Linked DNA regions of Homo sapiens: region 2 is linked to region 1. Evidence: fine-mapped QTL for protein levels in blood plasma. Region 1 holds a variant in brackets. A gene starts in the other region. All regions are shown on their reverse strands.

Region 1 (16,510 bases):
GTGTGTCTCTGCACGTGAGATGGGTTTCCTGAATACAGCACACTGATGGGTCTTGACTCTTTATCCAACTTGCCAGTCTGTGTCTTTTAATTGGAGAACTTAGTCCATTTACATTTAAAGTTAATATTGTTATGTGTGAATTTGATCCTGTCATTATGATGTTAGCTGGTGATTTTGCTCGTTAGTTGATGCAGTTTCTTCCTAGTCTCAATGGTCTTTACATTTTGGCATGATTTTGCAGCGGCTGGTACCGGTTGTTCCTTTCCATGTTTAGTGCTTCCTTCAGGAGCTCTTTTAGGGCAGGCCTGGTGGTGACAAAATCTCTCAGCATTTGCTTGTCTGTAAAGTATTTTATTTCTCCTTCACTTATGAAGCTTAGTTTGGCTGGATATGAAATTCTGGGTTGAAAATTCTTTTCTTTAAGGATGTTGAATATTGGCCCCCACTCTCTTCTGGCTTGTAGGGTTTCTGCCGAGAGATCCGCTGTTAGTCTGATGGGCTTCCCTTTGAGGGTAACCCGACCTTTCTCTCTGGCTGCCCTTAACATTTTTTCCTTCATTTCAACTTTGGTGAATCTGACAATTATGTGTCTTGGAGTTGCTCTTCTCGAGGAGTATCTTTGTGGCATTCTCTGTATTTCCTCAATCTGAACGTTGGCCTGCCTTGCTAGATTGGGGAAGTTCTCCTGGATAATATCCTGCAGAGTGTTTTCCAACTTGGTTCCATTCTCCCTGTCACTTTCAGGTACACCAATCAGACATAGATTTGGTCTTTTCACATAGTCCCATATTTCTTGGAGGCTTTGCTCATTTCTTTTTATTCTTTTTTCTCTAAACTTCCCTTCTCACTTCATTTCATTCATTTCATCTTCCATTGCTGATACCCTTTCTTACAGTTGATCGCATCGGCTCCTGAGGCTTCTGCATTCTTCACGTAGTTCTCGAGCCTTGGTTTTCAGCTCCATCAGCTCCTTTAAGCACTTCTCTGTATTGGTTATTCTAGTTATACATTCTTCTAAACTTTTTTCAAAGTTTTCAACTTCTTTGCCTTTGGTTTGAATGTCCTCCTGTAGCTCAGAGTAATTTGATCGTCTGAAGCCTTCCTCTCTCAGCTCATCAAAATCATTCTCCATCCAGCTTTTTTCCGTTGCTGGTGAGGAACTGCTTTCCTTTGGAGGAGGAGAGGCGCTCTACATTTTAGAGTTTCCAGTTTTTCTGTTCTGTTTTTTCCCCATCTTTGTGGTTTTATCTACTTTTGGTCTTTGATGATGGTGATGTACAGATGGGTTTTTGGTGTGGATGTCCTTTCTGTTTGTTAGTTTTCCTTCTAACAGACAGGACCCTCAGCTGCAGGTCTGTTGGAATACCCTGCTGTGTGAGGTGTCAGTGTGCCCTTGCTGGGGGGTGCCTCCCAGTTAGGCTGCTCGGGGGTCAGGGGTCAGGGACCCACTTGAGGAGGCAGTCTGCCCATTCTCAGATCTCCAGCTGCGTGCTGGGAGAACCACTGCTCTCTTCAAAGCTGTCAGACAGGGACATTTAAGTCTGCAGAGGTTACTGCTGTCTTTTTGTTTGTCTGTGCCCTGCCCGCAGAGGTGGAGCCTACAGAGGCAGGCAGGCCTCCTTGAGCTGTGGTGGGCTCCACCCAGTTTGAGCTTCCCGGCTGCTTTGTTTACCTAAGCAAGCCTGGGCAATGGCGGGCGCCCCTCCCCCAGCCTCGCTGCCGCCTTGCAGTTTGATCTCAGACTGCTGTGCTAGCAATCAGTGAGATTCCGTGGGTGTAGGACCCTCCGAGCCAGGTGTGGGATATAGTCTCGTGGTGCACCGTTTTTTAAGCTGGTCTGAAAAGCGCAATATTCGGGTGGGAGTGACCCGATTTTCCAGGTGCGTCCGTCACCCCTTTCTTTGACTCAGAAAGGGAACTCCCTGACCCCTTGCGCTTCCCAGGTGAGGCAATGCCTCGCCCTGCTTTGGCTCGCGCACGGTGCGCGCACCCACTGGCCTGCGCCCACTGTCTGGCACTCCCTAGTGAGATGAACCCGGTACTTCAGATGGAAATGCAGAAATCACCCGTCTTCTGTGTCGCTCACGCTGGGAGCTGTAGACCGGAGCTGTTCCTATTCGGCCATCTTGGCTCCTCCCCGCCAAATACCCACATTTTTTTTATCCAGTCTATCATTGATGGGCATTTCGCTGGTTCCAAGTCTTTGGTCTTGTAAATAGTGCTGCAATAAATATACGCGTGCATGTGTCTTTATAGTAGAGAGATTTATAATCATTTGGGTATATACCCAGTAATGGGATTGCTGGGTCAAATAATATTTCTGATTTTAGATCCTTGAGGAATTGCCACACAGTCTTCCACAATGGTTGAACTAATTTACACTCCCACCAGCAGTGTAAGACTGTTCCTATTTCTCCACATTCTCTCCAGCATCTGTTGTTTTCTGACTTTTTTTTTGTTTGTTTGTTTTGGAGACAGAGTCTGGCTCTGTCACCCAGACTGGAGTGCAGTGGCCCGATCTCAGCTCACTGCAACCTCTGCCTCCTGGGTTCAAGTGAGTCTCCTGCTTCGGCCTCCTGAGTAGCTGGGATTACAGGTGCGTACTACCATGACTGGCTAATTTTTGTGTATATATATATATTTTTTTTTTGACAGAGTTTTGTTCTTTGTTGCCCAGGCTGGAGTGCAATTGTGGGATCTGGGTTCACTGCAACCTCTGCCTCACGGGTTCCAGTGATACTCAGTCTCCTGAGTAGCTGGGATTACACTCATGCACCAACATGCCCAGCTAATGTTGTATTTTTAGTAGAGACAGGGTTTCACCATGTGGGTCAGGCTGGTCTCAAACTCCTGACTTCAAGTGATCTGCCCACCTCGGCCTCCCAAAATGCTGGGATTACAGGCATCAGCCACTGTGCCCAGTCTGTTTCCTGACTTTTTAATAATCACCATTCTAACTGGCATGAGATGGTATCTCATTGCGTTTTTGATTTACATTTCTGTAATGATCAGTGATGATGAGCTTTTTTTCATGTTTGTTGGACACATAAATGTCTTTTTTTGAGATATGTCTGTTCATATCCTTCACCCACTTTTTGATATGGTTGTTTGTTATTTTCTTGTAAATTTGTTTAAGTTACTTGTAGATTCTGGATATTAGATTTCGTCAGATGGATAGATTGCAAAATTTTTCTCCCATTCTGTTGGTTGCCTGTTCACTCTAATGATAGTGTCTTTTACTGTGCAGAAGCTCTTTAGTTTAATTAGATTCCATTTGTCAATTTTGGCTTTTCTTGCAATTGCTTTTGGTGTTTTAGTCATAAAGTTTTGCCCATGCCCATGTCCTGAATGATATTGTCTAGGTATTCTTCCAGGGATTTTATGGATTTGGTCTTACATTTAAGTCTTTAATCCATCTTGAGTTAATTTCTTAAATTATTATACTTTAAGTTCTAGGGTACATGTGCACAATGTGCAGGTTTGTCACATATGTATATATGTGCCATGTTGGTGTGCTGCATCCATTAACTCGTCTTTTACATTAGATATATTTCCTAATGCTATCCCTCCCCCCTACCCCCACCCTAACAACAGACGCCAGTGTGTGATGTCCCCTTCCTGTGTCCAAGTGTTCTCATTGTTTAATTCCCACCTATGAGTGAGAACATGTGATGTTTGGTTTTTTGTCCTTGCGATAGTTTGCTGAGAATGATGGTTTCCAGATTCATCCATGTCCCTATAAAGGAAATGAAGTCATCATTTTTTATGGCTGCATAGTATTCCATGGTGTATATGTGCCACATTTTCTTAATCCAGTCTATCGTTGTTGGACATTTGGCTTGGTTCCAAGTCTTTGCTATTGTGAATAGTGCTGCAATAAACATACGTGTGCATGTGTCTTTATAGCAGCATGATTTATAGTCCTTTGGGTATATATCCTGTAATGGGATGGCTGGGTCAAATGGTATTTCTAGTTCTAGATCCCTGAGGAATCGCCACACTGACTTCCACAAGGGTCGAACTAGTTTACAGTCCCACCAACAGTGTAAAAGTGTTCCTATTTCTCCACATCCTCTCCAGCACCTGTTGTTTCTGGACTTTTTAATGATTGCCATTCTAACTGGTGTGAGATGGTATCTCATTGTGGTTTTGATTTGCATTTATCTGATGGCCAGTGATGGTGAGCATTTTTTCATGTGTTTTTTGGCTGCATAAATGTCTTCTTTTGAGAAATGTCTGTTCATGTCCTTCGCCCACTTTTTGATGGGGTTGTTTGTTTTTTTTCTTGTAAATTTGTTTGAGTTTATTGTAGATTCCGGATATTAGCCCTTTGTCAGATGAGTAGGTTGTGAAAATTTTCTCCCATTTTGTAGGTTGCCTGTTCACTCTGATGGTAGTTTCTTTTGCTGTACAGAAGCTCTTGAGTTTAATTAGATCCCATTTGTCAATTTTGGCTTTTGTTGCCATTGCTTTTGGTGTTTTAGACATGAAGTCCTTCTCCATGCCTATGTCCTGAATGGTAATGCCTAGGTTTTCTTCTAGGGTTTTTGTGGTTTTAGGTCTAATGTTTAAGTCTTTAATGCATCTTGAATTAATTTTTGTATAAGGTGTAAGGAAGGGATCTAGTTTCAGCTTTCTACATATGGCTAGCCTCTTTTCCCAGCACCATTTATTAAATAGGGAATCCTTTCCCCATTGCTTGTTTTTCTCAGGTTTGTCAAAGATCAGATAGTTGTAGATATGCAGCATTATTTCTGAGGGCTCTTTTCTGTTCCATTGGTCTATATCTCTGTTTTTGTACCAGTACCATGCTGTTTTGGTTACTGTAGCCTTGTAGTATAGTTTGAAGTCAGGTTGCGTGATGCCTCCAACTTTGTTCTTTTGGCTTAGGATTGACTTGGCGATGAGGGCTCTTTTTTGGTTCCATATGAACTTTAAAGTAGTTTTTTCCAATTCTGTGAAGGAAGTCATTGGTAGCTTGATGGGGATGGCATTGAAATTACCTTGGGCAGTATGGCCATTTTCATGATATTGATTCTTCCTACCCATGAGCATGGAATGTTCTTCCATTTGTTTGTATCCTCTTTTATTTCCTTGAGCAGTGGTTTGTAGTTCTCCTTGAAGAGGTCCTTCACATCCCTTGTAAGTTGGATTCCTAGGTATTTTATTCTCTTTGAAGCAATTGCGAATGGGAGTTCACTCATGATTTGGCTCTTTGTTTGTCTGTTATTTGTGTATAAGAATGCTTGTGATTTTTGTACATTGATTTTGTATCCTGAGACTTTGCTGAAGTTGCTTATCAGCTTAAGGAGATTTTGGGCTGAAACAATGGGGTTATCTAGATATACAATCATGTCATCTGCAAACAGGGACAATTTGACTTCCTCTTTTCCTAACTGAATATGCCTTATTTCCTTGTCCTGCCTCGTTGCCCTGGCCAGAACTTCCAATACTATGTTGAATAGGAGTGGTGAGAGAGGGCATCCCTGTCTTGTGCCAGTTTTCAAAGGGAATGCTTCCAGTTTTTGCCCATTCAGTATGATATTGGCTGTGGGTTTGTCATAAATAGCTCTTATTATTTTGAGATATGTCCCATCAATACCTAATTTATTGCGAGTTTTTAGCATGAAGTGTTGTTGAATTTTGTCAAAGGCCTTTTCTGCATAGATAATCATGTGGTTTTTGTCTTTGGTTCTGTTCATATGCTGGATAACATTTATTGATTTGCATATATTGAACCAGCCTTGTATCCCAGGGATGAAGCCCTCTTGATCATGGTGGATAAGCTTTTTGATGTGCTGCTGGATTTGGTTTGCCAGTATTTTATTGAGGATTGTTGCATCAATGTTCATCAAGGATATTGGTCTAAAATTCTCTTTTTTGGTTGCATCTCTGCCAGGCTTTGGTATCAGGATGATGCTGGCCTCATAAAATGAGTTAGTGAGTCCCTCTTTTTCTATTGATTAGAATAGTTTCAGAAGGAATGGTACCAGTTCCTCCTTGTACCTCTGGTAGAATTCGGCTGTGAATCCACCTGGTCCTGGACCTTTTTGGTTGGTAAGCTATTGATTATTGCCACAATTTCAGATCCAGTTATTGGTCTATTCAGAGAGTCAACTTCTTCCTGGTTTAGTCTTGGGAGGGTGTATGTGTCAAGGAATTTATCCATTTCTTCTAGATTTTCTAGTTTATTTGCATAGAGGTGTTTGTAGTATTCTCTGATGGTAGTTTGTATTTCTGTGGGATCGGTGGTGATATCCCCTTTGTCATTTTTATTGCGTCTATTTGATTCTTCTCTGTTTTCTTCTATATTAGTCTTGCTAGCGGTCTATCAATTTTGTTGATCCTTTCAAAAAACCAACTATTGGATTCGTTAATTTTTTGAAGTGTTTTTGTGTCTCTATTTCCTTCAGTTCTGCTCTGATTTTAGTTATTTCTTGCCTTCTGCTAGCTTTTGAATGTGTTTGCTCTTGCTTTTCTAGTTCTTTTAATTGTGATGTTAGGGTGTCAATTTTAGATCTTTCCTGCTTTCTTTTGTGGGCATTTAGTGCTATAAATTTCCCTCTACACACTGCTTTGAATGTGTCCCAGAGATTCTGGTATGTTGTATCTTTGTTCTCAGTGGTTTCAAAGAACATCTTTATTTCTGCCTTCATTTCGTTATGTACCCAGTAGTCATTCAGGAGCAGGTTGTTCAGTTTCCATGTAGTTGAGCAGTTTTGAGTGAGTTTCTTAATCCTGAGTTCTCGTTTGATTGCACTGTGGTCTGAGAGACAGTTTGTTATAATTTCTGATATTTTACATTTGCTGAGGAGAGCTTTACTTCCAACTATGTGGTCAATTTTGGAATAGGTGTGGTGTGGTGCTGAAAAAACTGTATATTCTGTTGATTTGGGGTGGAGAGTTCTGTAGATGTCTATTAGGTCCGCTTGGTGCAGAGCTGAGTTCAATTCCTGGGTAGCCTTGTTAACTTTCTGTCTTGTTGATCTGTCTAATGTTGACAGTGGGGTGTTAAAGTCTCCCATTATTATTGTGTGGGAGTCTAAGTCTCTTTGTAGGTCACTCAGGACTTGCTTTATGAACCTGGGTGCTCCTGTATTGGGTGCATATATATTCAGGATAGTTAGCTCTTCTTGTTGAATTGATCCCTTTACCATTATGTAATGGCCTTATTTGTCTCTTTTCATCTTTGTTGGTTGAAAGTCTGTTTTATCAGAGAGTAGGTTTGCAATCCCTGCCTTTTTTTGTTTTCCATTTGCTTGGTAGATCTTCCTCCATCCTTTTATTTTGAGCCTATGTGTGTCTCTGCACGTGAGATGTGTTTCCTGAATACAGCACACTGATGGGTCTTGACTTTTTATCCAATTTGCCAGTCTGTGTCTTTTAATTGGAGCATTTAGTCCATTTATATTTAAAGTTAATATTGTTATGTGTGAATTTGATCCTGCCATTATGATGTTAGCTGGTTGTTTTGCTTGTTAGTTGATGCAGTTTCTTCCTAGCCTTGATGGTCTTTACAATTTGGCATGATTTTGCAGTGGCTGGTACCGGTTGTTCCTTTCCATGTTTAGTGCTTCCTTCAGGAGCTCATTTAGGGCAGGCCTGGTGGTGACAAAATCTATCAGCATTTGCTTGTCTTTAGAGGATTTTATTTGTGTTTCACTTATGAAGCTTAGTTTGGCTGGATATGAAATTCTGGGTTGAAATTCTTTTCTTTAAGATTGTTGAATATTGGCCCCCACTCTCTTCTGGCTTGTAGAGTTTCTGCCTGGAGATCCACTGTTAGTCTGATGGGCTTCCCTTTGTGGGTAACCCAACCTTTCTCTCTGGCTGCCCTTAACATTTTTTCCTTCATTTCAACTTTGGTGAATCTGACAATTATGTGTCTTGGAGTTGCTCTTCTCGAGGAGTATCTTTGTGGCATTCTCTGTATTTCCTGAGTCTGAATGTTGGCCTGCCTTGCTAGATTGGGGAAGTTCTCCTGGATAATATCCTGCAGAGTGTTTTCCAACTTGGTTCCATTCTCCCTGTCACTTTCAGGCACACCAATCAGACGTAGATTTGGTCTTTTCACATAGTCCCATATTTCTTGGAGGCTTTGTTCATTTCTTTTTATTCTTTTTTCTCTAAAGTTCCCTTCTCGCTTCATTTCATTCATTTCATCTTCCATCACGATACCCTTTCTTCCAGTTGATCGCATCAGCTCTTGAGGCTTCCGCATTCTTCACGTAGTTCTTGAGCCTTGGCTTTCAGCTCCGTCAGCTCCTTTAAGCACTTCTTTGTATTGGTTATTCTAGTTATACATTCGTCTAAAGTTTTTTCAAAGTTTTCAACTTCTTTGCCTTTGGTTTGAATTTCCTCCTGTAGCTTGGAGTAGTTTGATCGTCTGAAGCCTTTTTTTCTCAACTCATCAAAGTCATTCTGCGTCCAGCTTTGTTCTATTGCTGGTGAGGAGCTGCTTTCCTTTGGAGGAGGAAAGGCACTCTGCTTTTTAGAGTTTCCAGTTTTTCTGCTCTGTTTTTTCCCCATCTTTGTGGTTTTATCTAGTTTTGGTCTTTGATGATGGTGATGTACAGATGGGTTTTTGGTGTGGATGTCCTTTCTGTTTGTTAGTTTTCCTTCTAACAGACAGGACCCTCAGCTGCAGGTCTGTTGGAGTTTGCTAGAGGTCCACTCCAGACCTGGTTTTCCTGGGTACCAGCTGCAGTGGCTGCAGAACAGCAGAGTTTCGTGAACTGCGAATGCTGCTGTCTGATCGTTCCTCTGGAAGTTTTGTCTCAGAGGAGTACCCAGCTGTGTGAGGTGTCAGTCTGCCCTTACCAGGGGGTGCCTCCCATTTAGGCTGCTCAGGGTTCAGGGGTCAGGGACCCACTTGAGGAGGCAGTCTGCCCATTCTCAGATCTCCAGCTGCATGCTGGGAGAACCACTGCTCTCTTCAAAGCTGTCAGACAGGGACATTTAAGTCTGCAGAGGTTACTGCTGTCTTTTTTTTTGTCTGTGCCCTGCCCCCAGAGGTGGAACCTACAGAGGCAGGCAGGCCTCCTTGAGCTGTGGTGGGCTCCACTCAGTTCGAGCTTCCCGGCTGCTTTGTTTACCTAAGCAAGCCTGGGCAATGGCGGGCGCCCCTCCCCCAGCCTCTCTGCCGCTTTGCAGTTTGATCTCAGACTGCTGTGCTAGCAATCATCGAGACTCCGTGGGCGTAGAACCCTCTGAGCCAGGTGCAGGATATAATCTCCTGATGCACCGTTTTTTAATCCTGTTGGAAAAGCGCAGTATTGGGGTGGGAGTGACCCGATTTTCCAGGTGCCATCTGTGACCCCTTTCTTTGACTAGGAAAGGGAACTCCCTGACCCCTTGTGCTTCCTGAGTGAGGCAATGCCTCGCCCTGCTTCAGCTCACACACGGTGCACTGCACCCACTGTCCTG[C/T]GCCCACTGTCTGGCACTCCCTAGTGAGATGAACCACGTACCTCAGATGGAAATGCAGAAATCACCCATCTTCTGCGTTGCTCATGCTGGGAGCTGTAGACCAGAGCTGTTCCTATTTGGCCGTCTTGGCTCCAGCCTCACCACATTTTCTTAATCCAGTCTATCATTGTTGGACATTCGGGTTGGTTCCAGGTCTTTGCTATTGTGAATAGTGCTGCAATAAACATACGTATGCATGTGTCTTTATAGCAGCATGATTTATAATCCTTTGGGTATATATCCAGTAATGGGATGGCTGGGTCAAATGGTATTTCTAGCTCTAGATCCCTGAGGAATCACCACACTGTCTTCCACAATGGTTGAACCAGTTTACACTCTCACCAACAGTGTAAAAGTGTTCCTATTTCTCCCCTCCTCTCCAGCACCTGTCTTTTACTGACATTTTAATGATTGCCATTCTAACTGGTGTGAGATAGTATCTCATTGCGGTTTTGATTTGCATTTCTCTGATGGCCAGTGATGATGAGCATTTTTTCCTGTGTCTGTTGGCTGCATAAATGTCTTCTTTTGAGAAGTGTCTGTTCATATCCTTCACCCATTTGTTGATGGGGTTGTTTGCTTTTTTCTTGTAAATTTGTCTGAGTTCATTGTAGATTCTGGATATTAGCCCTTTGTCAGATGAGCAGCTTGCAAAAATTTTCTCCCCCTCTGTAGGTTGCTACAGAGTGGCATCTGCTCACTCTGATGGTAGTTTCTTTTGTTGCTCAGAATCTCTTTAGTTTAATTAGATCCCATTTGTCAATTTTTGCTTCTGTTGTCATTGCTTTTGGTGTTTTAGACATGAAGTCCTTGCCCATGTCTATGTCCTGGATGGTATTGCCTAGGTTTTCTTCTAGGGTTTTTATGGTTTTAGATTTAACATTTAAGTCTTTAATCCATCTTGAATTAATTTTTGTATAAGGTGTAAAGGTGTAAGGAAGGGATCCAGTTTCAGCTTTCTACATATAGCTAGCCCGTTTTCCCAGCACCATTTGTTAAATAGGGAATCCTTTCCCCATTTCTTGTTTTTGTCAGGTTTGTCAAAGATCAGATAGTTGTAGACATGTGGTATTATTTCTGAGGGCTCTGTTCTGTCCCATTGGTCTATATCTCTGGTTTGGTACCAGTACCATGCTGTTTTGGTTACTGTAGCCTTGTAGTATAGTTTGAAGTCAGGTAGCCTGATGCCTCTAGCTTTGTTCTTTTGGCTTAGGATCGACTTGGCAATGCAGGCTCTTTTTTGGTTCCATATGAACTTTAAATTAGTTTTTTCCAATTCTGTGAAGAAAGTCATTGGTAGCTTGATGGGGATGGCATTGAATCTGTAAATTACCTTGGGCAGTATGGCCATTTTCACGATTTTGATTCTTCCTATCCATGAGCATGGAGTTTTCTTCCATTTGTATCTTCTTTTATTTTGTTGAGGAAGTTCTGGCCAGGGCAATCAGAAAGGAGAAAGAAAGAAAGTGTATTCAATTAGGAAAAGAGGGAGTCAAATTGTCTCTGTTTGCAGATGACATTATTGTATATCTAGAAAACCCCATCGTCTCAGCCCAAAATCTCCTTAAGCTGATAAGCAACTTCAGCAAAGTCTCAGGATACAAAATCAATGTGCAAAAATCACAAGCATTCTTATATACCAACAACAGAGAAACAGCCAAATCATGATGAACTCCCATTCACAATTGCTTCAAAGAGAATAAACTACCTAGGAATCTAACTTACAAGGGATGTGAAGGACCTCTTCAATTAGTTAATTTTTGTGTAAGGTGTAAGGAAGGGGTACATTTTCAGTTTTCTGCATATGGCTAGTCAGTTTTCCAAACACCGTTTATTAAATAGGGAAACCATTCCCCATTGCTTGTTTTTGTCAGGTTTGTCAAAGAGCAGATGGTTGTAGATGTGTGGCGTGATTTCTGAGGCCTCTGTTCTGTTCCATTGGTCTATATATCTGTTTTGGTACCAGTACCATGCCATTTTGGTTACTGTAGCCTTGTAGTATAGTTTGAAATCAGGTTGCATGATGCCTCCAGCTTTGTTCTTTTTGCTTAGTATTGTCTTGGCAATATGGGCTCTTTTTAGTTCCATATGAAATTTAAAGTAGTTTTTTCTAATTCTCTGAAGAAAGTCAATGGTAGTTTGATGGGAATAGTGTTGAATCTATAAATTACTTTGAGCATTGTGGCCATTTTCACAATATTGATTCTTCCTATCCATGAGCCTGGAATGTTTTTCCATTCGTTTGTGTCCTCTCTGATTCCCTTGAGCAGTGGTTTGTAGTTCTCCTTGTAGAGGTCCTTCACATCCCTTGTAAGTTGGATTCCTAGGTATTTTATTCTCTTTGAAGCAATTGTGAATGGGAGTTCACTCATGATTTGGCTGTTTGTCTGTTATTGGTGTATAAGAATGCTTGTGATTTTCGTACATTGATTTTGTATCCTAAGACTTTGCTGAAGTTGCTTATTAGCTTAAGGAGTTTTGGGGCTGAGATGATGGTGTTTTCTAAATATACAATCATATCATCTGCAAACAGAGACAATTTGACTTCCTCTCTTTCTATTTGAATACCTTTATTTCTTTCTCTTTCCTAATTGCCCTGGCCAGAACTTCCAATACTATGTTGAATAGGAGTGGTGAGAGAGGGCATTCTTGTCTTGTGCAGGTTTTCAGAGGGAATGCTACCAGTTTTGCCCATTCTGTATGATATTGGCTATGGGTTTTTCATAAATAGGTCTTATTATTTTGAGATATGTTTCATCAATACCTAGTTTATTATGTTTAGAATGAATGGGTGTTGAATTTCATCAGAGGCCTTTTCTGCATCTATTGAGATAATCATGTGCTTTTTGTCATTTGTTCTGTTTACTTGACGGATTACATTTATTGATTTCTGTTTGTTCAACCAGCCTTGCATCCCAGGGATGAAGCTGACTTGATCACGGTGGATAAGGTTTTTGATGTGCTGCTGGATTCGGTTAGCCAGTATTTTATAGAGGATTTTCGCATTGATGTTCATGAGGGATATTGGCCTAAAATTTTGTTTTTTTTGTTGTGTCTCTGCTAGGTTTTGGTGTCAGGATGATGCTGGCCTCATAAAATGAGTTAGGAAGGCGTGCCTCTTTTTCTATTGTATGGAATATTTTCAGAAGGAATGGTACCAGCAGCTCTTTGTACCTCTGGTATAATTCGGCTGTGAATCCAGCTGGTCCTGGGCTTTTTTTCTTGGTAGGTTATTAATTACTACCTCAATTTCAGAACTTTTTATTGGTCTATTCAGCGATTCAACTTCTTCCTGGCTTAGTGTCTGGAGTGTGAATGTGTCCAGGAATTTGTCCTTTTCTTCTAGATTTTCTAGTTTATTTGTGTAGAGGTGTTTATGGTATTCTGTGATGGTAGTTTGTATATCAGTGGGACACTGGTAATATTCCCTTTATCATTTTTTATTGTGTCTATTTAATTCTTCTCTCTTTTCTTCTTTATTAGTCTGGCTAGTGCTCTATATATTTTGTTAATCTTTTCAAAAAACCAGCAACTGGATTCATTGATTTTTTGAAGGGTTTTTCATGTCTCTATCTCCTTCAGTTCTGCTCTGATCTTAGTTATTTCTTGTCTTCTGCTAGCTTTTGAATTTGTTTGCTCTTGCTTCTCTAGTTCTTTTAATTGTGATGTTAGGGTGTCAATTTTATTTTATTTTATTTTTTCTTATTATTCTTTAAGTTCTAGGGTACATTTGCACAATGTGCAGGTTTGTTACATATGTATACTTGTGCCATGTTGGTTTGCTGCACCCATTAACTCATCATTTACATTAGATATTTCTCCTAATGCTATCCCTCCCCCATCTCCCCACCACACAACAGGCCCTGGTGTGTGATGTTCCCCACACTGTGTCCAAGTGTTCTCATTGTTCAATTCCCACCTATGAGTGAGAACATTTGGTGTTTGGTTTTCTTTCCTTGTGATAGTTTGCTCAGAATGATGGTTTCCTGCTTCATCCATGTCGCTACAAAGGACATGAACTAATCGTTTTTTATCACTGCACAGTATTCCATGGTGTATATGTGCCACGTGTTCTTAATTCAGTCTATCATTGATGGACATTTGGGTTGGTTCCCAACCCAAAAGACCTTGGAAACACAGTATATTGATGCAAATTGTTGAGAGCTTCAACTGACAGAAAGGTGCCTGAGCTCCTGTTGCAGTCCTGCTCCTCACTTTGACCCCATCCTCACTCACTGACAGGGTCTCTTTCAGCTCTTCTGTCACCTCTGTTTTATTTGTGTCTGGAGAGTTCATAGCTGATTTTTATTCTTCTCTAATACACTAATCTTTTTCACTCATTGCTGACATTGGAAAATGTCAGGGAAAGGGCGTGAGCTGAGTGATATTTGAAGGCAATGCTTGCTGTCTTCCTGTATTCACCAAGACAAGGGGGAGCCTTTCTTTCACCAGGACTATCACTTCTACAGGAACCTATGCAACGAGGCAAGTCTGCATGGCACTTCCCTCTGTGCCTGCCCTCTGATCTTCCTTTCCTACTTAGAAGGTCCAGCATAAGTCACTAAGCAGGAACATTCATCTCCAGTTTCCCTGTCCAATTAGTGTGTGTGGAATGTAGTGACACTCATCCCAATAACATTAGGGTACCTGCTAGGCCAGGCAACTATTCTGTGCCTCCCATAAAGCACATAAAGCCAAGCTACAATTGTTTTATTATTGCATAGCCAAAGAAGAATTGCTAACTGGTAATATATTTCCTCTTAGCAAACATCCCTAATATTCCAGAAGGGGTGAGGGAGGAAAACAACAATCTGCCTGATCACCAGCCAATGGCAGAGTAATCAGCAACAAACTTCATTGTATGAGGACAACTTCCAGTAATATAAGGCATCTTCAAACTGTTTGTGGAAAATATATATTATTTTTTAAAATTATGCAGGGATACAAACATTTTTCATACCAAAATACATTTTTACTAACTTGTTACAACATGTCTGAAAAGGATATAGTTCAGTCACTAACATGGTTGAGACAGCAGTTTGAAAACAACTTCTATCAGATCAACAAATATTCTACTAAAATTGTATCAAGAACAAATATCAAGTTTATGATGCAGCTTGGGCGGAGGGATGGTGAAATCACTGATGCATCATGAAATATTTGTGCCCAAGTAAATCAGCCCTTCACAAATGGATAACTCCTTTTAAGAATTGACTAGATGATGGTGAAGATGAACTCTGCAGCAGCAGACCATACACAGCAACTTATGGGCAAAAATTTTATCTTCTTTTATTCCAATTGAAGAGACCTCACAGTTAACAGCAGAAAAAAGGGCTAGCACAAGAAGACTGTCAATTGGTTCAGATTACATAAATTTTTTTCTGGCTGAAAAATTAAAGTTGAGCAAACTATCGACTTGATGATGGCCAAAACTGCTGTACCTGAGTCAGCTACAGAGAAGAACAGAAGGTTCAATGAAAAATTAAAGAAGTAGGAAGTAGAAGAAAAGAAAAGAAAAGATCCTAAAGCATTTCTTTGGAGAGTTGTAACAGGAAATCAAACATGGCTTTACCAGTGCCATCCTAAAGGAAAAACACAATCAAAGCAATGGCTACCAAGAGGTGGAAGTGGTCTAGTCTAAATAAATGCGACAAGAGCAAACATCATGTCAACGGTATTTTTGGATGTTCGAGGTATTTTGTTTGTTAACTTTCTGGAGGGTCAAAGATGACGACATCAGCTTATAAGTTTGGAGTTTGGAGAAAGTTAGCCAAATCTTTAGCAGATAAATGGATGAGATTGGATGCCTAGTGAATGTCCCTCATAAGTCTGGCAAAATTGCCCTTGTTTCATGAGAGAAATGAGCAGGAGCATTGTTGTGATGGATAAGAACTCTCTGCTAAAGCTTTTCCGGGCATTTCCCTGCTAAAGTTTTGGCTAACTTACTCCATACTCTCTCATAAGTTGATGTTATCATTCTAAGTCAAGCAACTTAGGAATGGAAAAGCCAACATCGCATGTTCTCACTCATGAATCGGAGCTAAACTATGAGAATGCGAAGGCATAAGAATGACACAATGGACTTTGGGAACTCAGGGGGAAAGAGTGGGAAAGGGGAGAGGGGTAAAAGACGTCACTTTTACCTCTCTCTTATACACTGGGTGCAGTGTATACTGCCCGGATGATGGGTGCACCAAAATCTCACAAATCACCACTGCAGAACTGATTCACATAACCAAACACCACCTGTTCCCCAAGCTATGTAAATAAAACAAAAAAGAAAAAAAAAAAAAAGAAAATCCCTAGGCACCCAACTTACAGTTCTGATGCAGTATCTTTGGACTTCAGATTTTTTTTCTAATATTGAAATATTTTTAAAGTGTACTCTGTTTTCTTCAGTTAATGATGTGAAAAGACTGCATTCTGAAACTAATTTCAGGATCGTCAATTTTTATAGATAGGCTAAATTACTTGTATCATTACTTGCTAAACTTCTTGAATGTGATGGAGCTTACGTTAAGAAATAAAGTTTACATAATGTCTACTTTCATATTGTAATTATATTCTTCCACAAACTTTTTGAAATCCCCTTTTATTCTCAAACCATTCTGGAAGGGCAGGAACAGATTCTTATGTGTACAACACAGGATCCCCTCATCCAACTGATCAAGCAGTTTGTCTTTAGGATTTCCAGTCACATCCCCCTACTCATTACTTCTAACATGGCCATCCCGAAGTTATCACTATCCCTGAACAAAAACTGAATGACAGCACGAGACTTATTCAAAGCCTGAAATGATAAGTGGCAGCTGTTGATACTGACTCACCTACGCTTTCCATGAAAAGGATGAAAGGATGGGCAGGAACTACTTGATATAACAGAAAAGTCAGCAGATGAAAAGAGAGCTACCAACAGAACCTCAGTAAAAAGACCTTGGAAACACAGTATATTGATGCAAATTTTAAAAACAAAAAGAAAAATAAAGGAGTAACAAGAAATATAGATGGTTACTTAGAAGATTAGATTTAAAAATTTTCCCAAATT
Region 2 (15,568 bases), not on the chromosome of region 1:
CCATTCCAAGCCAGTATTGGTAGCCTTGGAGGGTCAGGGCCAGGTTGTGAAGGTTTTTGTTTTGCCTATTATGCCCTGACCACTTACCTACATGCCAAGCACTGTTTAAGAACTTGTGTTGGCAGGGTGCAGTGGCTCACACCTGTAATCCCTGTACTTTGGGAGGCCAAGGCAGGAGGATCACTTGAGGCCAGGAGTTCCAGACCAGCCTGGGCAAAATAGTGAGACCCCTGTCTCTACAAAAAAAAAAAAAAAAAAAAATTAGCCAGGCATGGTGGTGTATGTACCTATAGTCCCAACTAATCGGGAAGCTGGCGGGAAGACTGCTTGAGCCCAGAAGGTTGAGGCTGCAGTGAGCCATGATCACTGCACTCCAGCCTGAGCAACAGAGCAAGACCGTCTCCAAAAAAAAACAAAAAACAAAAAAAAACTTGTGTTAACGTGTTAAACTCGTTTAATCTTTACAGTGATTTATGAGGTGGGTACTATTATTATCCCTATCTTGATGATAGGGACAGAGTGGCTAATTAGTATGCCTGAGATCACACAGCTACTGCAGGAGGCTCTCAGGATTTGAATCCACCTGGTCCATCTGGCTCCAGCATCTATATGCTTTTTTTTTTGTTGGTTTGTTTTTGAGACGGACTTTCGCTCTTGTTGTCCAGGCTGGAGTGCAATGGCACAATTTCGGCTCACCACAACCTCCACCTCCCAGGTTCAAGTGATTCTCCTGCCTCAGCCTCCCGAGTAGCTGGGATTACAGGCATGCGCCACCAGGCCTGGCTAATTTTGTATTTTTAGTAGAGACAGTGTTTCTCTATGTTGGTCAGGCTGGTCTCGCACTCCCGACCTCAGGTGATCTGCCTGCTTTGGCCTCCCAAAGTGCTGGGATTACAGGCGTGAGCCACCATGCCCGGCCAGCATCTATAATATATGCTAAACCTTACCCACAGCTGCCTCTGTCTTGGGGTCAGGGTTCTTGAATGGTCTGGGCCAGCCTGAGTTAGGAGTGGGAAGAGGAAGAGGAGGCACGCGCCAAAGTGTTCTTCCCGCCTGACCGAGTCCTCTGCGCCTATGAGGAAGGTGGGCACCGCTGTCACCCTGTTTCCCAGGAAGCCAGCAGGCCCAGGGAGATACTGGGATTTGCCAAAGGCTCACAGCGAGCAAGCAGCAGTGGGTGCTGGCTCCTCACCACTCAGCCTGGCACACACTGTCTCTGAGCAGACCTGGGAGAAGGCATGTGAAACCCACCTAGCCCTGGCTGGAAGAGAAGTGGGGGAGTGGAAATGAAAAGTGGGGACTGGGAGGAGCTGCCCACGTGCCCTCCATGGTTCCAGGATGGCACTTTCATGCTGGGAGTGAGCTTGCCCTGTGCCAGGCTGTCATTGAGACGTTTTCCATTCAACAACTGTTTCTCAGACAAGGCACAGGCAGGTTAGCTCTCCCAGGCCACTCAAGTAGTAAGGAAACAGATTTAAACCCAGACAATTTGGCTCCACGGCTAAGGCCCAGAGAGGGGTGGTGACAAGCCTAGGGTCACACAGCCACAGCCCCAGAGCTAGGAACTGCTGGCTAGGGCAAGCAGACAGCTGAATCCTAGCCAACTGGAGGTGGAGCAGAGGTGGAGCCAGGGAGACCCAGGTGGCCTCTCTCAGAGTGGAGCACAGGTGGCAGAGTGGCCCGGGGCAGCATGAAGTGGTGCTGGGGCCCAGTGCTGCTCATCGCGGGTGCCACAGTCCTCATGGAGGGTAAGCCGCCATGTGCTGGGGTATGGGTGTGGCCTGGTGGGGGCTCAGGGGCCATCTCTGCCCCAGCAGTCCCTGCTTCTTGGTGGGGGGACCGCCTGTGGGCGACAGTCCACCAGTGGGGATGTAACTCCGTAGGACTCTGTGGGGTGGTATATGTGGCCACCTGTGTCAACATGGATGAGATTTTCTCGGGCCAGCTGCAGTTTGCGTTGGCGGGGCCTGTGGTCTTGTGTGTGTGTGAGGTGCTGCCTGCGTGTGTCCTGTGCCTGCCTCCCCCTCGACTTCCACAATGACGTCAGGCAAACTCTGGGCTCCTCTGGCCTCAGTTTCCCTTTCTTTTCATCCATCCTCTGGGCAGCCTGGCTCAGCTGTCTCATGGGGTGCCTGTGTGCCTGTGAGGGGCGGTGGGCAGGGGCCCTCTCTCTGGCGGGCTCTCAGACAGTTTCTGGGAAGGTGGGGAAGACTGAGTCTCTAGACCAGGGTGAGGTAAGTCTCCATTTCTTGGGGCCCTCCCCACTTGGAAATGATGCAGGCCTCTAATCCTTCCTCTTAGGCCTCTGCTGCTAAGAGGACAATTAAGCTAATGCTCTCTACACACACAGGCCGCCTGGCTGACTCAGTGGCGGGGGCAGGAGTTGGGGGTTCTGAAGCCTGGAGGAGGGCTGGCCTACTCCCAAGCTGAACCCCAAGCCCCAGAGTGCTGAGCACAGCTGAAGGAGAATTAATTACTGAGTGTGCACACTGAATAGGTTCCAATAAAAGCTGTCTCGGCCTCATATAAATATTTTCATTCTGGGAGGGGCTGGTAAGGTAATCAGAGTCACAGGCAAGGACCCTGGGCCCGCCCCCCAGCCCATCCCCTCTCCTCCCCAAAGCTAGGCAGGCCTGGAGTCCCTGCATCTTACCTGTGTCTCTCTCTTCCCAGGTCTTCAAGCCGCTCAGCGTGGTAAGGTCTGGGGACACGGGGCCTAGGTCTTACTTGGGTCTGGGTTGGGACTGGGGTGAGGTCAGGACAGGTATCTGCTGTCAGTGTGACTAACTCCTTTCCACAGCCTGTGGACAGCGTGGCCCCGGCCCCCCCAAGCCTCAGGAGGGCAACACAGTCCCTGGCGAGTGGCCCTGGCAGGCCAGTGTGAGGAGGCAAGGAGCCCACATCTGCAGCGGCTCCCTGGTGGCAGACACCTGGGTCCTCACTGCTGCCCACTGCTTTGAAAAGTAAGTCATGGCTGGGGTCAGGCAGGGTCTCCGGCTCTGGGGAGTGGACAATTTGTCTCAAGCCCCACAAGGCTAGTCCCTGCCTCTAGAGTAATAATAAAGAACCATTTACTGAGAATCTGCCATGTACTGGGTACATATTGTCAAGTTAATTGTAACAACCACCTTTCATGGTAGAAGATTTACAAATCAGAAAACTCAGGTTGCAAGGGAATGACCTCGCTTAAAGTCACAGACTGAGGCCGGGCACAGTAGCTCACGCTTGTAATCCCAGCCCTTTGGGAGGCCACGGAGGGAGGATCGCTTGAGCCCAAGAGTTCAAGACTAGCCTGTGCAACATAGCAAGACCATGTCTCTACAAAAACTGTAAAATTAGCCAGGCATGGTGGTGCACGCCTGTAGTCCCAGCTACTCACGAGGCTGAGGTGGGAGGATCGCTTGAGCCTGGGAGGTCAAGGCTTGTAGTGAGTCATGGTCATGCCACTGCACTGCAGCCTGGGCGACAGGACGAGACCCTACCTCAAAAAGAAAAAGCCGTGGAGTGCTCTCTGCTATCTTCCACCTACCTGTGGGGTCTCCCATGGTGTCACTGTCTACCCTTGCACTCAGCAGCCTGGACCTTGTCCTTCCCCTTCCAGGGCAGCAGCAACAGAACTGAATTCCTGGTCAGTGGTCCTGGGTTCTCTGCAGCGTGAGGGACTCAGCCCTGGGGCCGAAGAGGTGGGGGTGGCTGCCCTGCAGTTGCCCAGGGCCTATAACCACTACAGCCAGGGCTCAGACCTGGCCCTGCTGCAGCTCGCCCACCCCACGACCCACACACCCCTCTGCCTGCCCCAGCCCGCCCATCGCTTCCCCTTTGGAGCCTCCTGCTGGGCCACTGGCTGGGATCAGGACACCAGTGATGGTAAGTGCTGGCCCAGACTGAAGCTCGGAGAGGCACTCTGCTTGCCCAGCGTCACAGTCTCAGCTCCCAACTGTCCTGGCTTCCAGTCTCCCTTGCTTCCCAGATCCCAGACTCTAGCCCCAGCCCCGTCTCTTTCACCAGCTCCTGGGACCCTACGCAATCTGCGCCTGCGTCTCATCAGTCGCCCCACATGTAACTGTATCTACAACCAGCTGCACCAGCGACACCTGTCCAACCCGGCCCGGCCTGGGATGCTATGTGGGGGCCCCCAGCCTGGGGTGCAGGGCCCCTGTCAGGTCTGATAGGGAGAAGAGAAGGAGCAGAAGGGGAGGGGCCTAACCCTGGGCTGGGGGTTGGACTCACAGGACTGGGGGAAAGACCTGCAATCAGAGGGTGTCTGCCATAGCTGGGCTCAGGCATCTGTCCTTGGCTTTGTTGCCTGGCTCCAGGGAGATTCCGGGGGCCCTGTGCTGTGCCTCGAGCCTGACGGACACTGGGTTCAGGCTGGCATCATCAGCTTTGCATCAAGCTGTGCCCAGGAGGACGCTCCTGTGCTGCTGACCAACACAGCTGCTCACAGTTCCTGGCTGCAGGCTCGAGTTCAGGGGGCAGCTTTCCTGGCCCAGAGCCCAGAGACCCCGGAGATGAGTGATGAGGACAGCTGTGTAGGTACGAGTGGGGCATGCTGGGAGTGGGCAGAAGCCACTGTGAAGCAAACCTCAGTTAGGACTAGAGAACTGGCATAGGCATCCACACCGCCGAGCCTAATTAGGGGGCTCTTTCACCCCCTGGGATGGGAACAGCCCTGTTAGGGCTGAGAGGCACAGGCACTTTGGAACTCTACAGGTTTGGAGTTTAGGTGAGAAGAGGAATCTCTGAGACCTGACTTGGGTTTCTGGGGAAGTGGCAGGCTTCCAGCAGGGACCCAGCGAGCCTGCACAGGGTAGGGCTCCCAGTCAGAATTCCGGCATTAAGTGACTGGCATGCAAATTGAATGCAAAGTAATTCCTGGGACGGATATTATGTCTTGATGATAAGAGATGCACTAATGAGTCAGGAATACGGGAGGCAGGCCCATCCTGGAGGGTGCAGACGGGTGGAGCAGGGGAGTGACAAGTAGGGGCATTCCCACGAGGCTGGGACAGGGGTCCCATCAGACCAACAGGGCTAAAAGCTCAGGCCCTGGCTTGCGAATCGCAAGTCTGCCACTTGCCTGTAGTTACAGAGCAAGGAAGTCTCTTAACCTCTCTGGAACTTTGGTTACCTTCAGTAATGAGGGGAACAAAATTCAATTTCAAAAGCTACTGTGAGGATTTGATGGGAAGTGGGAAGTGCTTAGCAAGAAGTCAGATGAGGCACTTATCTGTTTCAGCCTGTGGATCCTTGAGGACAGCAGGTCCCCAGGCAGGAGCACCCTCCCCATGGCCCTGGGAGGCCAGGCTGATGCACCAGGGACAGCTGGCCTGTGGCGGAGCCCTGGTGTCAGAGGAGGCGGTGCTAACTGCTGCCCACTGCTTCATTGGGTGAGTCTTGGATCCCTCTCTGCTGTGCCCCCTGCCCCTGCCGGCAGCCCTGTCACCTGGTGCCGTCCACACTGCCTCTGCACAGGCGCCAGGCCCCAGAGGAATGGAGCGTAGGGCTGGGGACCAGACCGGAGGAGTGGGGCCTGAAGCAGCTCATCCTGCATGGAGCCTACACCCACCCTGAGGGGGGCTACGACATGGCCCTCCTGCTGCTGGCCCAGCCTGTGACACTGGGAGCCAGCCTGCGGCCCCTCTGCCTGCCCTATCCTGACCACCACCTGCCTGATGGGGAGCGTGGCTGGGTTCTGGGACGGGCCCGCCCAGGAGCAGGTAGGTGGGCACAGGGCCAGGGCTGCTGTCCATCCAACCTGCAGGCCGGGGCAGCCAGCTTTCCCTTGCTCCACAGGCATCAGCTCCCTCCAGACAGTGCCCGTGACCCTCCTGGGGCCTAGGGCCTGCAGCCGGCTGCATGCAGCTCCTGGGGGTGATGGCAGCCCTATTCTGCCGGGGATGGTGTGTACCAGTGCTGTGGGTGAGCTGCCCAGCTGTGAGGTGAGCCCCAGGCCCCCACACCTTACCTAACAGGCCCCTGGCATCCCCTCACCCAATAGCTCAAGAACGGACCTTCCAGGCTTGGCCTCTGGACCCACCTCCCACCTGAAACTAAGCCTTTTTGCCAATTAGCCCCCAAACAGCCAGAGGTTCCCTAGCCTGCTCTACCGTCCTGCACAGCTGCCTATAAAAAGTCACCCAGTGTCACCTGACCCCTGACAGGGCCTGTCTGGGGCACCACTGGTGCATGAGGTGAGGGGCACATGGTTCCTGGCCGGGCTGCACAGCTTCGGAGATGCTTGCCAAGGCCCCGCCAGGCCGGCGGTCTTCACCGCGCTCCCTGCCTATGAGGACTGGGTCAGCAGTTTGGACTGGCAGGTCTACTTCGCCGAGGAACCAGAGCCCGAGGCTGAGCCTGGAAGCTGCCTGGCCAACATAAGTATGTGGCCCCGGGGCCTCCTGCCAAACCCTGCCTCTCCAGGACCCTTCTCTCTCCAGTGAGAACGTGCCGTTCTAACCCACTCCAGCTGCCTTGGGTAGGGTGGAGCAACAGGCAGACCCATTTGATTCAGATTCTGGTTCTTTGTCATCGTGTGACTTGGAGCAGGCTGCTCAACCGCTTTGAGCCTCAGTATTCTCATCTGTCATGGCGGCCAAGACAGACCCTGTTCCTTCGAGGAATGGGGAGGGAGGGAGGGACCAAAGCCGTGAGGATGAGGACAACTCCACCCTCCTTCCTTCCCCACAGGCCAACCAACCAGCTGCTGACAGGGGACCTGGCCATTCTCAGGACAAGAGAATGCAGGCAGGCAAATGGCATTACTGCCCCTGTCCTCCCCACCCTGTCATGTGTGATTCCAGGCACCAGGGCAGGCCCAGAAGCCCAGCAGCTGTGGGAAGGAACCTGCCTGGGGCCACAGGTGCCCACTCCCCACCCTGCAGGACAGGGGTGTCTGTGGACACTCCCACACCCAACTCTGCTACCAAGCAGGCGTCTCAGCTTTCCTCCTCCTTTACCCTTTCAGATACAATCACGCCAGCCACGTTGTTTTGAAAATTTCTTTTTTTGGGGGGCAGCAGTTTTCCTTTTTTTAAACTTAAATAAATTGTTACAAAATAGACTTTAGAAAATAAGTTACAAATTGTAGCAAAAGGCTCCCTTCCACAGGCAACTTTCCCACCGGTGGGGCTCTGCATCCGCCTCTCCCTGGTGTTGCAATCTGGCTGCTGAGGGTGGCGCTGAGAAGAGCACGGTGATGAGGCTGGGGGAAGGAGGTCCTTCAAGGACAGGGACGCGAGGAACACCCCACCCCCTCCTTGGGAAAGAAGCCAGATCTGGGTCCTCTTCACAAGGGGAGAGGAGAAGATATGGGGATGCCCGAACTACTCCTGAGAAAATGTGGAGATCAAGCCCCTCCCTGCACGCGCTCCCTCCCCCAGATTCTGATCTTTGGAGACTTGAAGTTCAGAGGGAGAAGCTGAGGTCTGCAGGCCACTGGGGTGAAGGATCCAGGAGTGGGGTCGTGGGGGTGGGTGGAGGGGGCAATGGCAAGTCCCCTCTGCCCGTCACTGGTGCCACTGGGGCTCCTGGGGGGAGAGAGAGAGGAGGTCACCAACTGAGGGGCAGACCCCGCACAGCGTGTACCCCCTCCCAGCCCTGCAGGCCATTCCCCTGCCCCTGGCCCCGGAGGCCCAGATGAGAACAGGGATTCTAGGCCTCCTAATTATTTTCCCAGCCCTGGCAAACTGGCTCCTCCCTCATATCCCTTGAGGTCATGAGAAATCTTCTATCCTTAAAGCCATTCCTTCAGCTTTCAGGTGACTCCCACCTGCCCTCTGCTCTGACAAGGCCTGTCAAGGGCCCACCATCTCAGGGCCACCCACCCTCGGTGGCCACTAGATGGAATGGGTCCGCCTCTACTAGGGGAGGTGGAGAGGCCAGCCCAGGTCCTGCTGAGGGAACCGGCCGCCCCACTCCCTGGCAGCTGCGGCTTCCAGCAGTGCTGGGTGGAGGCGATTCCCCACGGAGATGCCCTCTGATCAGGGATGTGACACGGGCTAATGACTGTTGTTGCTGCAGCTGGGCCTGGACTTCAAGGAAACAATTATCTGTGACTCAGTCCTCCAGTTAAAGGTGTGCAGAGGGTGGCAGGGTGCGCAGGTAGAAAGGGTGGTTTGGTTGGATCCTAAAAAGGCCGTTGGCAGCAGAGGGAAAAGGGGCTGAATAAAGGTTAGAGAAGAGATGGGAGCAACACTGACAGGGAAGGACCAGAGGTCTAGTTTCCAAGGAGAGGAGCAGCAGAGACAAGGCGCAGGGAAAGAGGGACAGGGAGTAGGGTGCCAACCAGTGAACCAGTTTCCGTGGCCAAGTCAGCAGGGAAGCCGTGGAGCCCATGCCCCATCCCTTGTTCCCTGGCACCCGGCCTGCTCCAGGAAAGAATGGAACCTAGACCAAACCAATGGCTTCCTCTTTTTCTCTGGAAGTCATTACTTTACTGGCTGACTCAGGAGGGTTTCCAGACACAGCAGCCAGGGGGTACCCAGTGACCTTCCCCTGAACAGAAAGACCATTCCATTCTGGCTACAGTGTAATGGAGGAGCCCAGGTAGCAGCCTCGGCCTGACCACGCCCCCACGTGCTGCCCAACCCACCCTGCTATTTGTTATACCTGACTTGCGGGTGCTCAGCTCAGCACATCCTCAAGCTACTTCTCTCACCCCATAGCCAAGCCCCCACCCACCTCTTAGAATCCCCGGGGCTCTCTCCTCTCACTCCTTGCTCCCCCACCGACTTTGGGGCTGGACTTCCCCCTCCACTGTGTGCCCACCTCCTCCTGGGACCCTTCATGCCCCCTACCGGAGCCGGCCACCGTCCACTCCTCCTGGTGCTGCTGCTGGTGCTGCACGAAGCTGATTCGGCGGCGGAAGTGGCGGGGACAATGGGGGCAGGTGAAAGGCCCCTCCCGGGGTGCATGGACCCGCCCGTGGCCCTCCAGCCGGGCAGCTGTCCGAAAGGCCTTGCCACAGATGCTGCAGCAGTGGCGCTTGGGGTCCGTGTGGGTCCTGCTGTGGTTCTTAAGAGACAGCAGGTTAGGGAGAAGTTTGGGACAGAGGGAGCACGGGTACAACCCTGTGGTGTGGGCCTTCTGGTGGTTCAGCAGGCTGCCAGCATGGCGGTAGGAGCGCCCGCACTGGGTGCAGCGGAAGGGCCGCTCCTTGTCCTCAGCCGCCATGGACGTCACCGCTTGTCCTCCCCTGGCTCTCTCCACACTCTCTCCTGGGCCTCTGGGGGTTTCTGATGGGGCCTCCTGGGCTTTCCCTTGACCAGGGAGAACCACCTGGTCCTCCCCAGTCCCGGCTTTGGGATCTCTGGCCTCCTCCATCTGGGCTGGCACCTGGCTGTGGCCCCGGGCATGAGCCTGCAGGTGGCTGGCCAGTTCCTGGTGGGACTCAAAGGCTTTGCCACAGTCAGGACAGGCAAAGGTCTGGGCGTCTATGTGGTTGTGGCTGTGGCTCTTTGTGGCCACAGGATTTAAGAACTCCTTGGAGCAGAGCAGGCAATAGTGTCGGTCTGTCTTGTTGGTGTTGTGGTTCAAGAGGCTGCCTGACTGGCAGTAAGTCTTGCCACACTGGCTGCAAGAGGAGTGGCTCCCTGGCTGCAGCTGAGAGCTGTTGTCTCTGTTGTCCCAGCTATCCATGTGACTCAGAGTAGGTCCATTGAGCTGGCAGTCACCAGCGTGGCAAGGACTCCTGTGGACACTGTCCTCTGGCTCCTCTGACCTAGTTAGGAACTGAGGAACCCAGCCTCCACTATGATTCCCCAGTCCCCCACCTACCGGCCACCCACCTGCCTTCCCTGCACCCCAGGACAGTGGCTCTGGGGCTTCTGAGCTTGCTGCCCTGATGGGGCTCTGACTGCGCTCCCCTGGCCTTGGGACTCCATCCTCCAAGTGGGGTACTGGCTCAGCACCACCCAATTGGGTCTCTAGTCCCTGGCTGCCAGTCAGGTTCGCCTCACTGGCCGCTGTGCCATCCAGGCCTCCCTGGCCATTGGCTGGCTCCCTTTCTGTCTCCTCATGCTCCCGCAGGTGCCGCTCCAAAGATCCCCGGCCAGGGAAGCTGCGGCCACAGAGGGCGCAACGCACAGCTGTGCGCCTGGACCGTCCAGCCCGTCGCCGCCGATTCTCTGAGTGCAGCCTCTGGTGGTCCTTCAGGGCCATGCGGTTGGAGTAGGTCTTGGGGCAGGTGGGGCAGCTGTACTGGCCCGTCTCGTGGCTGCGCCGGTGGTTCAGGAGGCTGCCGGCGTGGCGATAGGTCCGCCCGCACTGCCCACAGCGGAAGGGCCGATCTTCCCGAGTCGCCTTTCGGGTGCCCCCACCCCCACGCCGTTCCATGTGGACCCGCTGGTGGCTGGCCAGCTGTTTCCGCAGGCGGAAGGCCTTCCCACACTCGCTGCAGCGGAAACGTCGGGGATCTGCATGGATGCGCCGGTGGTTCTTGAGGGACATGAGGTTTGAGAAGCCCTTGGAGCAGGCCTGACAGCCAAAGTGGCCGGTCTGGTGGCTCTGCCGGTGGTTGATGAGGCTGCCGGCGTGCTTGTAGGATCGGCCACACACCTCGCAGCTGAAGGGCCGCTCAGAGCTGGCTTCAGTCTGGCAGCCCTTCTCGGCAGTCTCCAGCCTGGGCTCTATCTCCTCCCCCTTCACAGTGGTCTCCTCCCACACCTCTTCTTTCACCCTGGCCACTTCCTCCAGGGGCTCCACTTTAAGTTCTTCCTGGAGCTTCTCGACTTCTGCTTGCCCCGGCCCCTCCTCTGCCATGTGCTGGGGCTTGTTGCTGCCTCCTTCTGGGATGGGCCCAACCTGCAGCTCACTGCTACCTGCTGCCTCTGGGATGGGCCCAACCTGGGGCTCAGAGCCTTTGCAGCGAGGGTGGTTCCGCAGATGATTACGGTAGGCAGCCAGGTTGGGGTAGCAGCGGGAGCAGACAGGGCAGAGAAAGTCTCCAGTCTGGTGGATCTTGCGGTGGTTCACCAGGCTGCCCCCATGGCGATAGGTCTTGCCACACTGGTTGCAGCGGAAGGGGCGGGGCTGAGCCTCCAACAAACTTTCCCCACCCTGGATGCAGAGGCTGTCTCCCAAGGGGGTGCCTGCTCCCTCTTGAGACTTGGCATCTCCACCCTCTCCAGAGACAGAATTCACTATGTCCTCCAAGACACTGTCCACGACCATCTCCATGGCATCACCTGCCACTCCCAAGGGGCTGGGAGCCTTGTCTGCAGTAGTCCCAGAACTCTGACTTTGGTGGTGACGCTCCAGGCTCCCCAGGTCATCGTAGGTCTGACCACAGCAGCCACAGATGTGCCCATACCCTGCACTGTCCAGCGCTTCCACCTCCCGCTGCAGCTGATTCAGCAGCTCTGCTTCCGAGAGCTGCAGTGGTGGACTGCGTGCAGGGGCTGCCTCTGCCACTCCTTCCTCTTCCCCCTCCTCCTCTGAGCCCTCAGTCATGCCAGAGGAGCTGTGGGCCTGGCGCCGGTGAAGCCTGTAGCCAGCCCGCCCAGGGAAGATCATGCCACAGAGGCAGCAGAGGAAAGGCTGTGCTGAGGTCGCCTCCCCAGGCCTATGGTTCTGGAAGTGGCTGCGGAGGGCAGGCAGAGAGTCAAACTCCTTCGGGCAGAGGGAGCACTGATAGATGCCTGGTGGGTGGCAGGGCCTGTGGCTCAGCAGGCCAGTGGCATGGGGGAAAGAATGCCCACAGTCAGAGCATGTGTGAGCGGCCCCAGCCTGCCAGCCAGTGACAGCATTGGCAGAGTGGGAAGAGGAGTTGGGTTGGCCAGTGGCTGGCTTCTGGTCTTCATCCACCCCAGTGAGGCTATCGCAGAAGTGAGTGCCACCACCTTCCTCACCTGGGATGTCCAAGTTGTCAAGTAAACTGGCATCCTTCCTTTCCAGTCCTTCCCCAGTGCCTCCGCTCTCTTTATCACCCTGGAAATGGGTCTCATCCCTCTCAAGCCCACATTTGTCCCCTTCAGATTCAGCCTGCAAACAGTCCCCATCACTTTCCAGGTTGCCTTCAGCCCCATGAGGACTTTCCCCTGAAGGGTCTTGGGGAGACTCCAGGCCTTCATTGTCTTCTAGCTCCCGGGTCCAGCTCTCCGCTGCCAGGAGTTTGGCTTCTCTCCCACCGCTGGCACCGCCAGCCCGCTTCCGATGCCGCCTGCTCCGCCGCCGACTGTGCCGGCGCAAGTGGTTCTTCATGGCAGCCATGGTGTGGAAGTGCTTGGCACAGGCCCCACAACTGAAGTCTCCTGTCTGGTGGGTCTGCCTGTGGTTGATAAGGCTGCCTGAGTGGCGATAGCTCTTTCCACAGTCTCGGCAGGCAAAGGCCCTAGGAGGTGACATTGTGGTCTCTGTTCTGCTATTTTCCTTTTCCCCTGCCCCATGAGTCAGGCCATGACGTTCAAGGCTCTCAGCGTCTTCAAAGAGCAGCCCACAGATGCTACAGATATGTGCTGCTGTCTTGTCTGCTGCTGGGGTGATGTCCGTGGCCTCTTCTTCATGTTTGCACACATGGTCCTGATCTGTGTGCGGGGCTGCCTCTGCCTCCACTGGGTCAGGCGGGAGTTCTACCTTGAGGTGGCTGGGGGCACCCTCAGCCCCGATGTCTGCACTTCGGCGAGCAGCCTTGCAATGTACCCGCACGTGGTTGCGCAGGGCCATGAGATTGGGGTACTTGCGGGGACAGAGTGAGCACTGGTACTCTCCAGTCCGATGGCTGTGGCGATGGTTCACCAGGCTCCCCCGGTGGCGGTAAGCACGACCACACTCACTGCACTTATAGGGCCGATGGTCCAGGGTGGTGGTGGGGTCCTCTTCCTCTTTGTGGGTGGTCTCAGCCAGCAGCAGGGGAGCTGGTGGGACTGATGGCTGCCCATTTTCCCCAACTCCTTGCCTGGGCCTGTGATGAGCCCGCACATGGTTTTTGAGGGCAGCCGCATTGAACAGCTGCTTAGAACAGAGTGAGCAGGGGTAGACACCTGTCTGGTGGCTCTTTCGATGGTTGATGAGGCTCCCAGCATGGCGGTAAGTACGGCCACAGTCCCCACAGCGGAAAGGCCGGTATTCCTCCAGGCCACTGTCCTCCAGCTCCCCAGAGGTGCTGAGCTCCGCAGAGCCATTCAGCATCTGTGCACTGGGGAGCTGGTCCTGGCTGCTCTCATCTGTGTGCCCATTGGTGGTGGGCATCCCTTTCTCCTCCCAGCGTGGCTCCTGCCTTTCACCCTCATGGGACTGCTGGTGTTCCAGCAGCTCCCGGGGGAGCCGGAAGACACGGGGGCAGTGGGGACAGTGGTAAGGCCGATACTGGGCATGCAGTCGAGAGTGGTTCTTCAGAGCCATGAGGTTAGAGAACTCCTTGAAACAGATGGCACAGGGGTAGATGCCCAGCGTGTGGCTCTGGCGGTGGTTGGTGAGGCTCCCGGCGTGCTTGTAGGTCTTGCCACACTGACTACATTTGTACCGCCGCTCCTCCTCAGCAGGAGGGGACTGGGTGGGCTCCTGGCCCCCTGTGAAGTTCACTACTGATTCAGCCAGATACTGTTCCAAGTTGCTAAGAAGGCTGCTGGCTGGGATGGGGAGAGGAGGGGCTCTGGCAGAGTTAGTGGAGGGTCCCCAGCCGTCTGCACCATCCTCAGGACCTGGGTGGCTTGCCAAGCCTTCTCTTTGTCTGGTGGGCAGATCTTCCCACGTACCCGAAGCTGCCCTGGGGTCAGGTACAGATTCACAGTCAGGTGTCTCTTCTGTATGTTTTGTCTGGTTTTCCCAGCCTTCACTAGAGCCAAGCCTTTGGCCCCAGGAGTCAGTGGACACCGTCTCACCCTGGAGGTGTGGAGTGGCTTCCTTGGGGCGTGGGGGCCTGTGCCTGCGGCGGCCCTCAGGAGCATGTGTCCTCATATGGCTCTTGAGAGCCATGGGATTGGAGAAGTCCTTGCCACAGGTGGTACAGGGGAAAAGGCCAGTCTCGTGGGTCCGACGATGGTTAACCAGGCTCCCGGGGTGACGGTAGCCCCGCCCACACTGCTGACAACGGTAGGGCCGAGGGATGCTGTCAGCCTCCTCACTGTCCTGGTTGGGAGATGGATGGAGCAGTTCTCGGTGCCGAGAGAGCTCTGGGAGGCTGGGAAAGTGGCGCTGACAGTCGGAGCAGCTGAGTGAGGGGGGTGTGTCCTCCATGGGGCAACGTAGCAGAAACCTGGAGGTTCAGAAGGAGCAGACACGTGGCAGCACCTTCCTCTGGTGGAGGGGCCAAGGCCTAGGAAGAGGGGGCAGTGGTCAAAAGGAAGGCCTGAATTAACTTCGCCTCTTGGCTCTACGAGCAACAAGTTCACCTGAGGTCACTGAGAGGTTCCCCAAGCATCCATGCCCAAGGACCTAATTTCTACTAGATCCAATCTGCAGGCACCATCATTTAAGGCTTCCCTGTGCACAAGCTTCCCAAATATAGGAGCTCCCCTAGGCTTAAGTCATCCCTACAGGTATAGCTAAGGAAATTAAAGTTGAGAGAGATGCAACCTACTTCTGATCACAGACCTGTTATGTTCTTCAGACCAGACTCAAAAGGCATTACTGTCCTTTAAGAACAGTAGGAATCTGCTCCCTACAATCCTGAAACAAAAATTTTCTGTGACATCTTAAAAGGACACCAAAACCTTCTCTAGGCCTTTCAATAAGAGAAGTCCAAATCTTCCTACTTCATCTCTCAGCTAAACAGAGTAGCTGAGAAGCACTGAAAAAGCAGCTGTTTCCTCCAGTTAATAGCTGAGGACCTGAGAGGAGAGGTTAGAGGCCTCCTTCAGGGAAAGGGCTGGCTTGTTCCCCCACCACCCCGAGTCATTTCAGTGTCACAAGGTCTCTTTTCCTTGTGACAAGAGAGTTAAGAGAGTTAAGACTCTCTTAACTGGGCCAGGTGTGGTGGCTCACGCCTGTAATCCCAGCACTTTGGGAGGCCGAGGCTGGTGGATCACCTGAGTTCAGGAGTTCAAGACCAGCCTGGACAACATGGTGAAACCCTGTCTCTACTAAAAATACAAAAATTAGCCGGGCGTGGTGGTGGGCACCTGTAATTCTAGCTACTCAGGAGGCTGAGGCTGAAGAACTGCTTGAACCTGGGAGGTGGAGGTTGCAGTGAGCTGAGATCCCACCACAGCACTCCAGCCTGGGTGACAGAGCGAGACTCCATCTCAAAAAAACAAAAAACCCCAAAAGACTCTCTTAGCGACTTCTTTTATCTACTTCCCTTGAACTCAAACTATCTTCCATCTTGGGAATAACATCAATACCAGGTTGTAATGTCACTTCATTGCCTACCTTTTCTCTCCCATGCCTCCTGATCTTACCCTCACCAGTCTTTCTCATTTTTTTCTTCTGCCTCCTCTCTTAATACTGATGATGACAGCAACTCATGAAGAGTATTATATTACCATGTGCCAGGCACTGTGCTAACTATATTCATTGTGTTACTCAATCCTCAGAACACACGGCAATGCCTGTTATTCTAGTTCACGTAACAGCAAACCCCCTGACTGAGGCGGTCTTCATCCCAAAGCCCTTGCTCTCTCATGCCCCC

Alleles and levels. Positions count from the first base shown, and alleles are read on the strand shown. Strength reflects both the effect of a copy and how common the allele is.
As copies of T replace C in region 1, the plasma level of the protein whose gene starts at base 1,557 in region 2 goes up (strong association).

Evidence for each region. PIP is the chance, under the fine-mapping model, that this variant and not a neighbour inherited with it causes the effect. Protein levels are from antibody-based Olink assays in UK Biobank. Linkage for the fine-mapping came from a reference panel and not from the study's own genotypes, which makes the PIPs less certain.
Region 2: it holds the start of PRSS53, and the variant in region 1 is fine-mapped to the plasma level of the PRSS53 protein (UK Biobank, PIP above 0.99).

Annotation. Positions count from the first base shown.
Region 1 is chr12:11,283,286-11,299,795 of GRCh38, reverse strand. LOC107987435 (a long non-coding RNA gene) reads right to left here. Exons shown (of 2, transcript XR_007063209.1): 2 at 14,161-16,510. Among named protein-coding and RNA genes, the nearest start is that of PRB4, 19 kb to the left of the region's middle. RefSeq lists enhancers at 1,327-1,922, 8,564-9,063, 9,064-9,565. The variant C/T (reference allele first, on the strand shown) is at 9,427.
Region 2 is chr16:31,074,932-31,090,499 of GRCh38, reverse strand. PRSS53 (serine protease 53) reads left to right here and starts at 1,557. Exons shown (of 11, transcript NM_001039503.3): 1 at 1,557-1,748; 2 at 2,674-2,694; 3 at 2,801-2,963; 4 at 3,602-3,867; 5 at 4,009-4,163; 6 at 4,317-4,536; 7 at 5,240-5,390; 8 at 5,476-5,720; 9 at 5,797-5,942; 10 at 6,165-6,381; 11 at 6,691-7,063. The coding sequence starts at 1,691. The coding sequence ends at 6,710. ZNF646 (zinc finger protein 646) reads right to left here. Exons shown (of 3, transcript NM_014699.4): 2 at 8,799-14,254; 3 at 6,304-7,529. The coding sequence starts at 14,175. The coding sequence ends at 7,408. RefSeq lists enhancers at 1,380-1,880, 15,312-15,568.